Linked DNA regions of Homo sapiens: region 1 is linked to region 2. Evidence: fine-mapped expression QTL. A gene starts in region 2. The other region holds a variant in brackets. All regions are shown on one strand. Distances are from middle to middle. Region 1 overlaps ZNF615 (zinc finger protein 615). Region 2 holds the start of ZNF432 (zinc finger protein 432).

Evidence for each region. PIP is the estimated chance that this variant, and not a neighbour inherited with it, causes the effect.
Region 1: its variant is the best candidate, but not a certain one, in a credible set for the expression of ZNF432 in whole blood (INTERVAL, PIP 0.83).

Annotation. Positions count from the first base shown.
Region 1 is chr19:52,000,367-52,005,754 of GRCh38, forward strand. ZNF615 (zinc finger protein 615) reads right to left here. Exons shown (of 7, transcript NM_001199324.2): 3 at 3,331-3,534; 4 at 1,789-1,915; 5 at 1,447-1,542; 6 at 1-12. The coding sequence starts at 3,345. Among named protein-coding and RNA genes, the nearest start is that of ZNF615, 5.2 kb to the right of the region's middle. The variant G/GT (reference allele first, on the strand shown) is at 2,467.
Region 2 is chr19:52,046,479-52,051,866 of GRCh38, forward strand. ZNF432 (zinc finger protein 432) reads right to left here and starts at 2,360. Exons shown (of 5, transcript NM_014650.4): 1 at 2,217-2,360; 2 at 376-582. The coding sequence starts at 390. RefSeq lists an enhancer at 2,143-2,732.

The DNA.
Region 1 (5,388 bases), 46 kb before region 2:
CACCTCCTGAATCTAAAATAAAAACATAAAAGATAAAATAAAATTAAAAAAATAAAATTATATAAGGATAGCCAAAAGCATTATTCTTAGAGGGAAGATGATTCTTGTTCCTCATACACAAAATGGGAAGTTACAGGCTAGTTGTCATGAAGACAAGTAAAATACATGGAAATAAAGTATACATTAGATAATATTAAGGCAGAAGTTAATTTGGTAGTCTCTTCCAGAGAATGAAGAGTTAATTCACGGGAATGAAAAAAACTTTTAAAAGTTATGAGAACAGTAAAGAAAATGGAAGAAGGATGGGCTGGGCACGGAGGCTCACGCTGTAATCCCAGCACTTTGGGAGGCCAAGGCTGACAGATTACTTGAGCCAAGGAGTTCAAGACCAGCCTAGGCAACATGACAAAACCCCACCTCTATAAGAAATACAAAAATCAGCTGAGCATGGTGATGTGTGCCTGTAGTCCCAGCCACTTAAGAGGCTGAGGTGGGAGGATCGCTTGAGCCGAGGAGGTCAAGGCTACAGTGAGCCTGGGTGACAGATGAGACCTTCTTTCCAAAAAAAAAAAGTATGGAGAAACTCAGGATTCAGTATAAGAGGAATAAGAGAACTTAAGAAACACATAAATGCCAATCAGAGACCAGGTTATCATGGGCACAGCATCCAGAGTGGAGAAAATGAGGGAAAATAATGATTCCCAGAGTGGGAATAATGAAGGAAAATTATTATTTTCCTACTAGGGCAGGAAGATGCAGTAGTCAGAAAAAAGTAATGAGTTCAAAGGTCTCTCTTTCCGGAGAGGCCTGGAAAATGGAATTTCATAGCAAGAGAGGTAATACACAAGCAGAGACACTGTGACAGTGGACAAGAAAAGGCAGATTTGAAAATCCTAAGAAGATAATTATGTAGACAAAAACAAGATGTGCATAAAATAAACAAAGATGAAATCTCAAGGAAAAAAAGTGGGGGCCGGGCGCAGTGGCTCAAGCCTGTAATCTCAGCACTTTGGGAGGCCAAGGTGGGCAGATCACAAGGTCAAGAGATCAAGACCATCCTGGCCAATATGGTGAAACCCCGTTTCTACTAAAAATACAAAAATTAGCTGGGCGTGGTGGTACGCACCTGTAGTCCCAGCTACTCAGGAGGCTGAGGCAGGAGAATCCCTTGAACCCGGGAGGCGGAGGTTGCAGTGAGCCAAGATTGCGCTACTGCTCTCCAGCCTGGTGACAGAGCAAGACTCCATCTCAAAAAAAAAAAAAAAAAAAGAAAAGAAAGTGGGGCATATTTTCCATACTATAACAAAAAAGAGCTCTTCCTTGGGAAGAAGGAGTGATGGAGGGGCTGTTGCTGTGTCCTCAGATGCCCTCACTGCTTTGACGCCTGCTCTGTGTGGGCAGAACATGGTGTCTGTGGCTGTCCACCTGGCTGCTCCTCTCACTCACCAGAACAGATTCGAGAGTAGATTTCATCTTCTGTTGTGCAAGTTTCTTCTCCTCGTTCCAATTTGGAGAGTGCATCTGGTTTGCTGGCTTGATACCCTGTTCATGGGAAATGACAGAAGATTTAGACAAATCAAACGGGGCTGGCAATATTGAAAAAGGAGAGTTACATTTTAAGGACTACATAGGTATCAGATCTGTAACAAGAAGGTAGATTATACTCTCTTGTGTGGGGCAAGAGAATGATGTGAGAATCTACCACTTCAGAGTACTGCAGGTAAGCAGCTGAGAAAGGAAGGCCACTGACTGGGCACCCTCTGAGTGACACAGGGCAGCTGTCCTCACCCACTGCCACCAGGTTGCTGTAGTTCTCCAACATCACGTCCCGGTACAGGTCCTTCTGAGCAGGGCTCAGGAACTGCCACTCCTCCCAGGTGAAGTCCACAGCCACATCCTCCAGTGTTAGGGATTCCTGTAATAACACACTTCTGTTTAATGAAGTCATATTCTTTTGGTGATAGGAAAAGAATGTCAAGGAAGTCATTCCGCTCATTTTCACCACATAGGAAGCTGGTGGGGTTTTTTTCTTAGTACATTTTGACAGAATAAGAATTCCAGTAAAATATTCTGTAACTGTGCGGTCATCCATTCATTCAACAATGTTGAAAAGTCAAAGAAATGTCTGTAATACACAGCTATCCAATCCTCTTGCTAATGAAAGAACATCTATAACATGTAGCATCTATTTCCCAATACCAAACTAGTCATAAGTATATGCCAGTTACAAGTAGACGAATAATTCAGATTCTTAAATTCACTATGAGCTTTCAGGCCAATATCAAACTCTGTAATGAAGACATGGCAGATGCTAGTATCACAAGACAATGCATTCTAAATAACTATGGTTAACATAGTTAACCATATTATTATTTTATTCTGAATGAAATAAAAGAGACTATATAAAACATGTATAAAGCACAAAGATTATTAGATGATTAAACAAATCTGTTTTTTTGCTTGCTT[G/GT]TTTTTTTTTTTGAGATGGAGTCTTGCTCTGTTGCCCAGGCTGGAGTGCAGTGGCACAATCTCGGCTCACTGCAACTTCTGCCTCCCGGGTTCAAGCAATTCTCCTGCCTCAGCCTCCCTAGTAGCTGGGATTACAGGCGCACGCCACCACACCTGGCTAATTTTTGTATTTTTAGTAGAGATGAGGTTTCACCACGTTGGCCAGGCTGGTCTCACACTCCTGACCTCAGGTGATCCACCCGCCTTGGCCTTCCAAAGTGCTGGGATTACAGGTGTGAGCCACAGCGCCTGGCCATGATTAAGCAAATTTGGAAAAAAAAATCCTTAGAATATATATGCAGACACATGTATGCACACAGACAAATTCATATATATGTGTATGTTATTAGACAGCGTTAATAACATTAAATACAATGAAGAAACAGCTAAAAGAAATCTACTTTTGCATTTATGAGAAGGCTACAGTTAAGAACACCACCTACCATAACACCTCCGTGAAGAACTATCAAAGATGTATTTGAGCCTCAGAATTATAAGCCATGAAACATTAACATCCCTCAAGAAACTGGTCTGCTTTCTCACAGTTGATATAACTTATCATGTTTCTCTTGTATAGCTTGTCAGAGATACTAGAGGCAAGTTTACAGCAAATGTAACCTACGGGGTCCCACACAGTCACAAATTCCAACATGAATCATGTAGTATGAATCCTATGAATAATATATCCCTGATCCTTCTTTGCCCAGATTTCTCCAGGTCCTGATATTTCCAATTTATACTTTTCTGATTAATTACCCTGATTTTTACAGGACTTTAAAAATACATTGGAGAATAAAGGAAAGAATAAAACAAACCAAAAGTCACCTGGGCCTGCATCATTGTCTCCTAAATTTGGGAAATGACTGCTAACTTGGACGTTCTGTATTTGTCTCTTCTGAATCAGCTCTAAATTTCGGTTCAAAAACTTCAATCTCCAATCAAGGATGTCCCCAGAAATGATGACACCCAAGTCTTGGAAACTCCGCCTCCTTCCTTCACTTGATTTCTCTTGTTCTCAGCACCTGTGGGCTGAAGAGCAAATTACTCTGAGTGGTACATTCTTTTTAGGCCCAGATGTTGTCACTGTTCCTATATGCTCACCTTAAATCAAGGCCCCCAAATATCTCTCTGTTCTTTTATTTAGTGCTCCAGAAGCTTTTATATCTGGGCTAGTAAAATATAACATTCTGAATATATGGGAGGTACAGCACCCTTCTATATAAAGTTGACGTGGTATGACTACTGCTAGTAAGTGAAAGAGAATGTGGGGAAAAGAATCGTCACAACGTGATGCCCAGCAGCTGGGCAATCCTCAGGCAGACCAGTTTTAGGAAAGAGGTCACATAGACAGTTAAGATGCACACATTTTTTCTTTAAAACCATGTGTACCCATCTACCTTTTCAGAGGTCTTTTTACATTCTAGGATACTGCAATCTGAGAACACTGTCCTAAGCAAATAATAAGCACTATCTTATTTAAATTATTCATTACCATCCACATCTTTGACTTTTTTTCTTTTTTTTTTGAGACTGAGTTTCACTCACTCTGTTGCCCAGGCTGGAGTGAGTAAGACTCCAGTGGCGTGATCTCTGTTCACTGCAACCTCCATCTCCTGGGTTCAAGCGATTCTCCTGCTTCAGCCGCCTGAGAAGCTGGGATTACAGGTGAACGCCACATGCGCTGCTAATTTTTGTACTTTTAGTAGAAACGGGGTTTCACCATGTTGGCCAGGCTGGTCTTGAACTCCTGAGCTCAACTGATCCACCCATCTCAGCCTCCCAAAGTGCTGGGACTACAGGCATGAGCCACTGCACCCGGCCGCCATCCACATCTTGATACTTGCAAAGTATTCTAAGTATAAATGTATAAAGGATACTCAGCAAAAATATCCTTGAGGAATTACATATTACAGCAAATCCTAACGGATATTCTTCAAGCAAAAGAAAGATGACTCCAGTGTAAGCAGAGGAGCAAGGTCTGAAGAGGAACAAAACGGTAAGTAATTAATAAAGCCTAAATCAGTATTGACTGGAAAAATAATACTGATAATAATATATCAGGAAGTTTTAATATATATAGTGTTAAAATATTCCATAAGAACATATAGGCCGGGTGCGGTGGCTCACGCCTGTAATCCCAACACTTTGGGAGGCCGAGGTGGGCAGATCACGAGGTCAGGAGTTCGAGATCAGCCTGACCAACATGGTGAAACCCCGTCTCTACTAAAAATACAAAAATTAGCTGGGCATGGTAGCGCGTGCCTATAATCCCAGCTACTCAGGAGGCTGAGGCAGGAGAATTGCTTGAACCCAGGAAGCGGAGGGTGCAGTGAGCCAAGATTGTGCCATTGCACTCCAGCCTGGGTGACAGAGTGAGATTCTATCTCAAAACAACAACAACAAAAAAGAACATATAAAGTAGGAGGATGGCAAATGAAAACGTATTTTAAGATATCTGCATAGCAGAAGAGTATAAAATACTAATTACCATAACATTAACAAATAAGTTTATATGTTGTTTGTAATCAATAGTGTCAGCAATAAAACTAATTTTTAAAAAATTATTTCCATGTTAAAAGAGAGGTCTATGGTTTCCGTGGCAGCTACTCAACTCTACTGTTGTAGCTCAAAAATGCCCACATACAAAAAAATAGACAAATGATTGTGGCCAGGTCCCAACAAAACTTTATTAACAGAAACAGGTGCTGGGAGATTTAGTCCATGGGCTCTAGTTGCCCAACTGTGAATTTGTGCAGAAAAGCCATATGGTCACCTAAATCAAGAGTCAGTAATATAGTATCCAGGACCTGGACCACCTGTTTTGTAAATAAAGTCTTATAAGAACACAGCTACATGCATTCCATGACATTTCATCTCAGGCTA
Region 2 (5,388 bases):
CATATCACCTCTGGGAAGAATAGCAAATTTTTCTTGAGATCTAAGTGCCATGAAATAATAATCTCCTGAGGAACCTGTCTGCTTTCTCCCCACAGTCACTGTATAACTTAGTGTGACTTTCTTGTACTGGCTGTCAGAGACATCAGATGCAAACTGAGAGCTAAGGTAATGGAAAGGATCTTCTAGTCAGGCATTATTTTCCAACATCAGTCATTTTGTAGGAATCACATAAACACTATATTCCTGATCTTACTTTGCCATGATGTTGGAGTTAGATTTAAAGTTTATTTCTCTCTAGATTCTGAAATGATTTCTTACGGGTCTCTACAAATCCACTATGGAATAAAGGAGAGAATAAAATAGAGAAAAAGTCACCTGGGCATTGATCATTTTCTTCTGTTGTGGGAAATGGCCAGCACCTGGGATACTCTGTCTTTGTCTCCTCTGGATCTGCCTTAAATTTCTATTTAGAAACTTCAGTCACCAGTGAAGGGTGTCCACAGAAATCATATCTAGGTCCTGGAATCTTCCTCTTTCTTCATTTACTTCTTGTCTCTTCCCAGGGTAGCCAGGACCTGTGGACTGAAGAGCAAAACAACTTTCAGGGGTACATTCACCTTAACACGTGGCCCTGAATATTTGTCTCTTTATTTGGTTCTCTCAAACCAAGGAAACACAAGACCCTCAATGTAGGCCAAATGCCTTTCTTCGGTGAAGTGTGGAAGTAACATGAAGATGAAAGGGGAGGTCACAAAGGAGAATCCACATAGCATCATGCCTAAGCAGTAGGTAATTCTCATATCAGTTTTTTAAATCAGGCCATATGGATGGTGAGAAACTACATTTTTTCCTTTATACAATGTTACTCTCACACCTCTTTAAAAGTCTTTATATATATTTAAAAGTGTTTATATACGGCCAGGCATGATGGCTTACACCTGTAATCCCAGCACTTTGGGAGGCCGAGATGGGCAGATCACCTGAGGTCAGGAGTTCGAGACCAGCCTTGTCAACATGGTGAAACACTGTCTCTACTAAAAATAGAAAAAATTAGCCAGGCATGGTGGCAGGCACCTGTAATCCCAGCTACTCGGAGACTGAGGCAGGAGAATGGCTTGAACGCAGGAGGCGAAGTTTGCAGTGAGCCCAGCCATTGCACTCAAGCCTGGGCGACAAAAGCAAGACTCCATCTCAAAAAAAAAAAAAAAATGTTTATATACACACTTCAATATGAAGAACAAGAAACACATAGAAAAAAAGAGGGAGACAGAGAAAAGGAATACGAGTTATAAATACAAATTTAGAAAACAATTCAAAAATATAAATACTGGGAAAATAGCCGCCTTTATATACTAACATACAAAACCTGAAACACCCATAAAAATATGCAGTACATTTGCAAGAGGAAGGATAAAAATAGGCTCTTGTTAATTTGTGCGCAGTAATTTAAAAACATAATGTTAAATAGAAAGCCTATTCATCCGCCCCCCTTCACCCCCAAAAAACTTTCATTTTCTGCAGGTTCAAGAGCATGGGTTGTTGTGGAAAGCCAGAGGATTAGAAAACTCATTGTGGAGGAGGTACTCGGACCTGAAACTTTTAGGAAATGTTAACGTTCATCAAGTCTGTTCCAGCCAAAGTTTGAGCTCAACACACACACACACACACACACACACACACACACACACACACACACACACACACAAAACCAGCCAGGGCTCTTGTGAAAAGACTTCGGCTTTCACTTGTCTCTAGACAAAAGACCACCACCCCGCCAGATAAAATAGGAAAACCTGGAATAGACACACACGTACACTGGATTCCCTTAATGATTCATCAATCACTAAGCCTCAGATTAATCCAGAATGTGAAACAGAAGTCACATTCGTTGACAAAAGCCACCCCATCGATTCTCAATCACTGAGCCCCACTGGGGAGTGACCCGCGAGGACCACAATCCCTGACCTCAGTACTCTTGGTCGTTGATCTATTCAGGCCTTTAATCACTGACCACCAGAGCCTCCATGAGGGACCCCAAAGATATCCTATCACAGACACCCACCAGGGACTCCTACCAGCTCCCCTCCAAAAGGAAACACCCGCCCCCGCCTCCCCCAACCCCCGCGCTACCTCCACCATATAGCGCCACCAACAACGCAGACGCCCTCAGAAAGCTCCCTCCCACCACGTTTCCACGCCCTGACCCACACACTGACCTGACTCTCCTTGGAATCGCCGCGACCTCTTAAAAGCTGAACTTACTTCCCTAAACTTCTTCCACTTCTGGGCCCCTCGCCCAACTCCCTCCCCCTCTAAACCTCCAGAGACGGTCAGCCGCGTTTCCATGGAGAGCGGAATGCGGCCTTCCGGCTTTTCCTCAGGAGGAGACGCGTCCGCGCCGGCGTCGCCTCGCCGCTCTGGGGGCGGCCATCTTTGAGTACGTGACGTACAGAAGGCACAGCGGCCGGGAGACGCGGTGGACGGAGGCCTCTTAAACTGTCCGATTTCCAGACACCTCAGCCCTGGCAGAAAATGGAGAGCTTATCAGAGGCTTGAGTTCACACAGGCAGACACGGCGTGGGGGTAAAGTCCTCTGAACAGACACGGAACAGAAATAAGTTAGTCTTCTCCTCGCAGGGGACAGTGAACGGCGCAAACTTCTCAAAGGCCAGAACCCATTATTACCACAAAGGCGCGGCATCCCTTCTTAGCGGTTATGATGGCTGTGACGTCTCAGCTCAATGGAAAATTAAAGTCACCTCTGGGCACCTCAGTCACTATTGTAAATGCGAAGCGTTTTAGAAGCCGTATAAAAACTGAAGCAAGAGAGACTAGAACAAAAAATAAGCGAGCGGTGCGTTGCAGGTAACGGAGCCAGAGCCCTTAGGGGAGAGCATCATGGGGGCGGCCATCTTAGGGGACGTTCGGTGTCCGTACGGCAGAACATATTCTCTCTGAGAAGCTTGCGGTGGAACTGGCCCATGGAAATGTCTTTAGAAGAGAAGAACCACCTGGCTCTGTTCTTGACTCTGGAAAAGAATCCTTTTCTAGAATTATTTAGGTTGTTGCCAGATTAATTTCCTTTAGAGAGTTTCCTTGCCCCCACGACTTCCTATCTTTAAAGCCAACAATAGTATGTGAAATCCCTTTCATATTTGAAACCACTGACTATTGCTGCTGCATCTCTCCGGTTTCTCCTATTCTTAAGTGCTTGGGCAATCCAGAATAATCTCCCAATGCTAAAGTCAGCTGATTAATAAACTTAATTACAATGCAGAGTCCTTTTTGCCATGTAACATAACCATGGGAATTACTCTGGGGTTGTAGATCTGGCTATGATATGATGACACTAATGAATATTTTGCAATAAAAACATACTATTTTAAAATATATATATACATATATCTTTATATATGTATATTTCTACAGAATTATTACAAGTTATGTCTTATGATGGTTTCTTATAAGAAGCAAGGAGGAAAAGGTCCTTAACATTTTCAATTGTGTTTTTTTTAATAATAAAGCATGCATTCTAATTTACAAAAACCACAATAAAGGTACTTTCATCATGTCAGTCTTGAGGCTGAACAACACTTAACATTCTTTTTCCTTTTACCTGTCTGCCTTCTCCCTTCCCCTACACTCTCTATACCCCACCCTCCAGGCTCTCTGTTCCATCATCTTATGCGTATGGCCCCTTTCCCCTGTGCCCTCTTATTACTTCCATCTATCACGCAGACACACACTGTCACTCCCCTAAACACTCTAGTGTTAAACAATTGCTGCTGATTGTTTTTTGACAAGTGCCCTATGGGTAGGAGTGTTCACATAAATAAAGTCAAGCCAAATAGAGAAATACTATGAGAATAGACCTATTCAGCAGGCTGCAAAGCAGGCTTAGTAGTGAACATTCTGTGGGGATGGAGGCTTTTGGGTGTTTCAGAGCCATTTCTGCCATTTTCAGAGCCATTTCTACCTCCTCAAGTGCAGATATTCTGCTAGGGTGCAGATATTCACTGTTACTGTTGTTAAAAGGTGGTTGCTTTTCAAGGCTACCTTGAAGCTGAGGATATGGGGATAGGATTAGGGCAAGCTAAATACCACAAGCTCACTGTGGCCGGCATTGTAGACTTAATTGGCCATTCTAGAAGAGGAACTAACTGGCTTCTAGCCAGGGCCTAAAAACTAGATCTAGATAGCCAAAAAGATTACATTAAACTTCCTCTAGTGTCCCATCTATCAGATTCCAATCCTGAAGGACCAAGTCAATCTCTCTTCTATTTCATCTCCTTTCTCCCATCTTATAAAAGATCTTTGGAAAACTCTGTTTATTTCATATATAACAGAGCTGATATTTGTATGTTTTGTGGAGATGATGTTTCATCATGTTGCCCAGGCTGGTCTTGAACTTTTGGGCTCAAGCAATCCTCCCACCTCGACCTTCCAAAGTGCCAGGATTACAGGCATAAGCCACCATGCCTGTCTTAACATTTAATCTTTTCAAATTACTTCACTATGTATTCTTTTTTGTTGTTGTTCTTTTTTTCTGTTTACTTCACTGTGTATTCTAAGCACAAATAAGAAATTCTTATTTCCTAATTATTGTTTATTTCCATATATATAATATATTTTTTTAATAAGTTTTTTTTTAGACTGCATCTCACTCTGTCACCCAGGTTGGTGCGCAGTGGTGCAATCTCAGCTCACTGCAAACTCTGTCTCCCGGGTTCAAGCAATTCTTCTGCCTCAGCCTCCCAAATAGCTGGGATTACAGGTGTACCACCACACCCAGCTAATTTTTGTATTTTTAGTACAGACATGGTTTCACCATGTTGTTCATGCTGGTCTCAAACTTCTGAACTCATGTGATCCACCTGCCTTGGCCTCCGAAAGTGCTGGGATTACAGGAATGAGCTCCAACACCTGGCCCATTTCCTAATATTTGTATACACTTGCTATATTTTTATTTTTACCACACATAAAAATCAAGGCAAATGCAAGCCATGGATCTTATACATACAAAGGCATGTAGAACTATAATCATATAGTGAATATTCATGCATACTGAGGCAGGTTTTTAGATGCTCAGAGTCTGAAATTGCACTGCATGGTATTTCCATAAAATGTCCTGGGGCATACTCGGACAGAATAGCTCAAGTGCAAATTATAAGCATATATTCCCCAAATTGTATCCTGTTTGAATTCATCAAAGTTGAAATGAAGGAAAAAATAATAAGGGCAGCTGTGGGGAAAAGAAAGAGAGATCAGACTGTTAACTTGTCTATGTAGAAAGAAGTAGACAAAAGAGACTCCATTTTGTTCTATACTAAGAGAAATTCTTCTGCCTTGAGATGCTGTTAATCTGTAACCCTAGCTCCAACCCAGTGC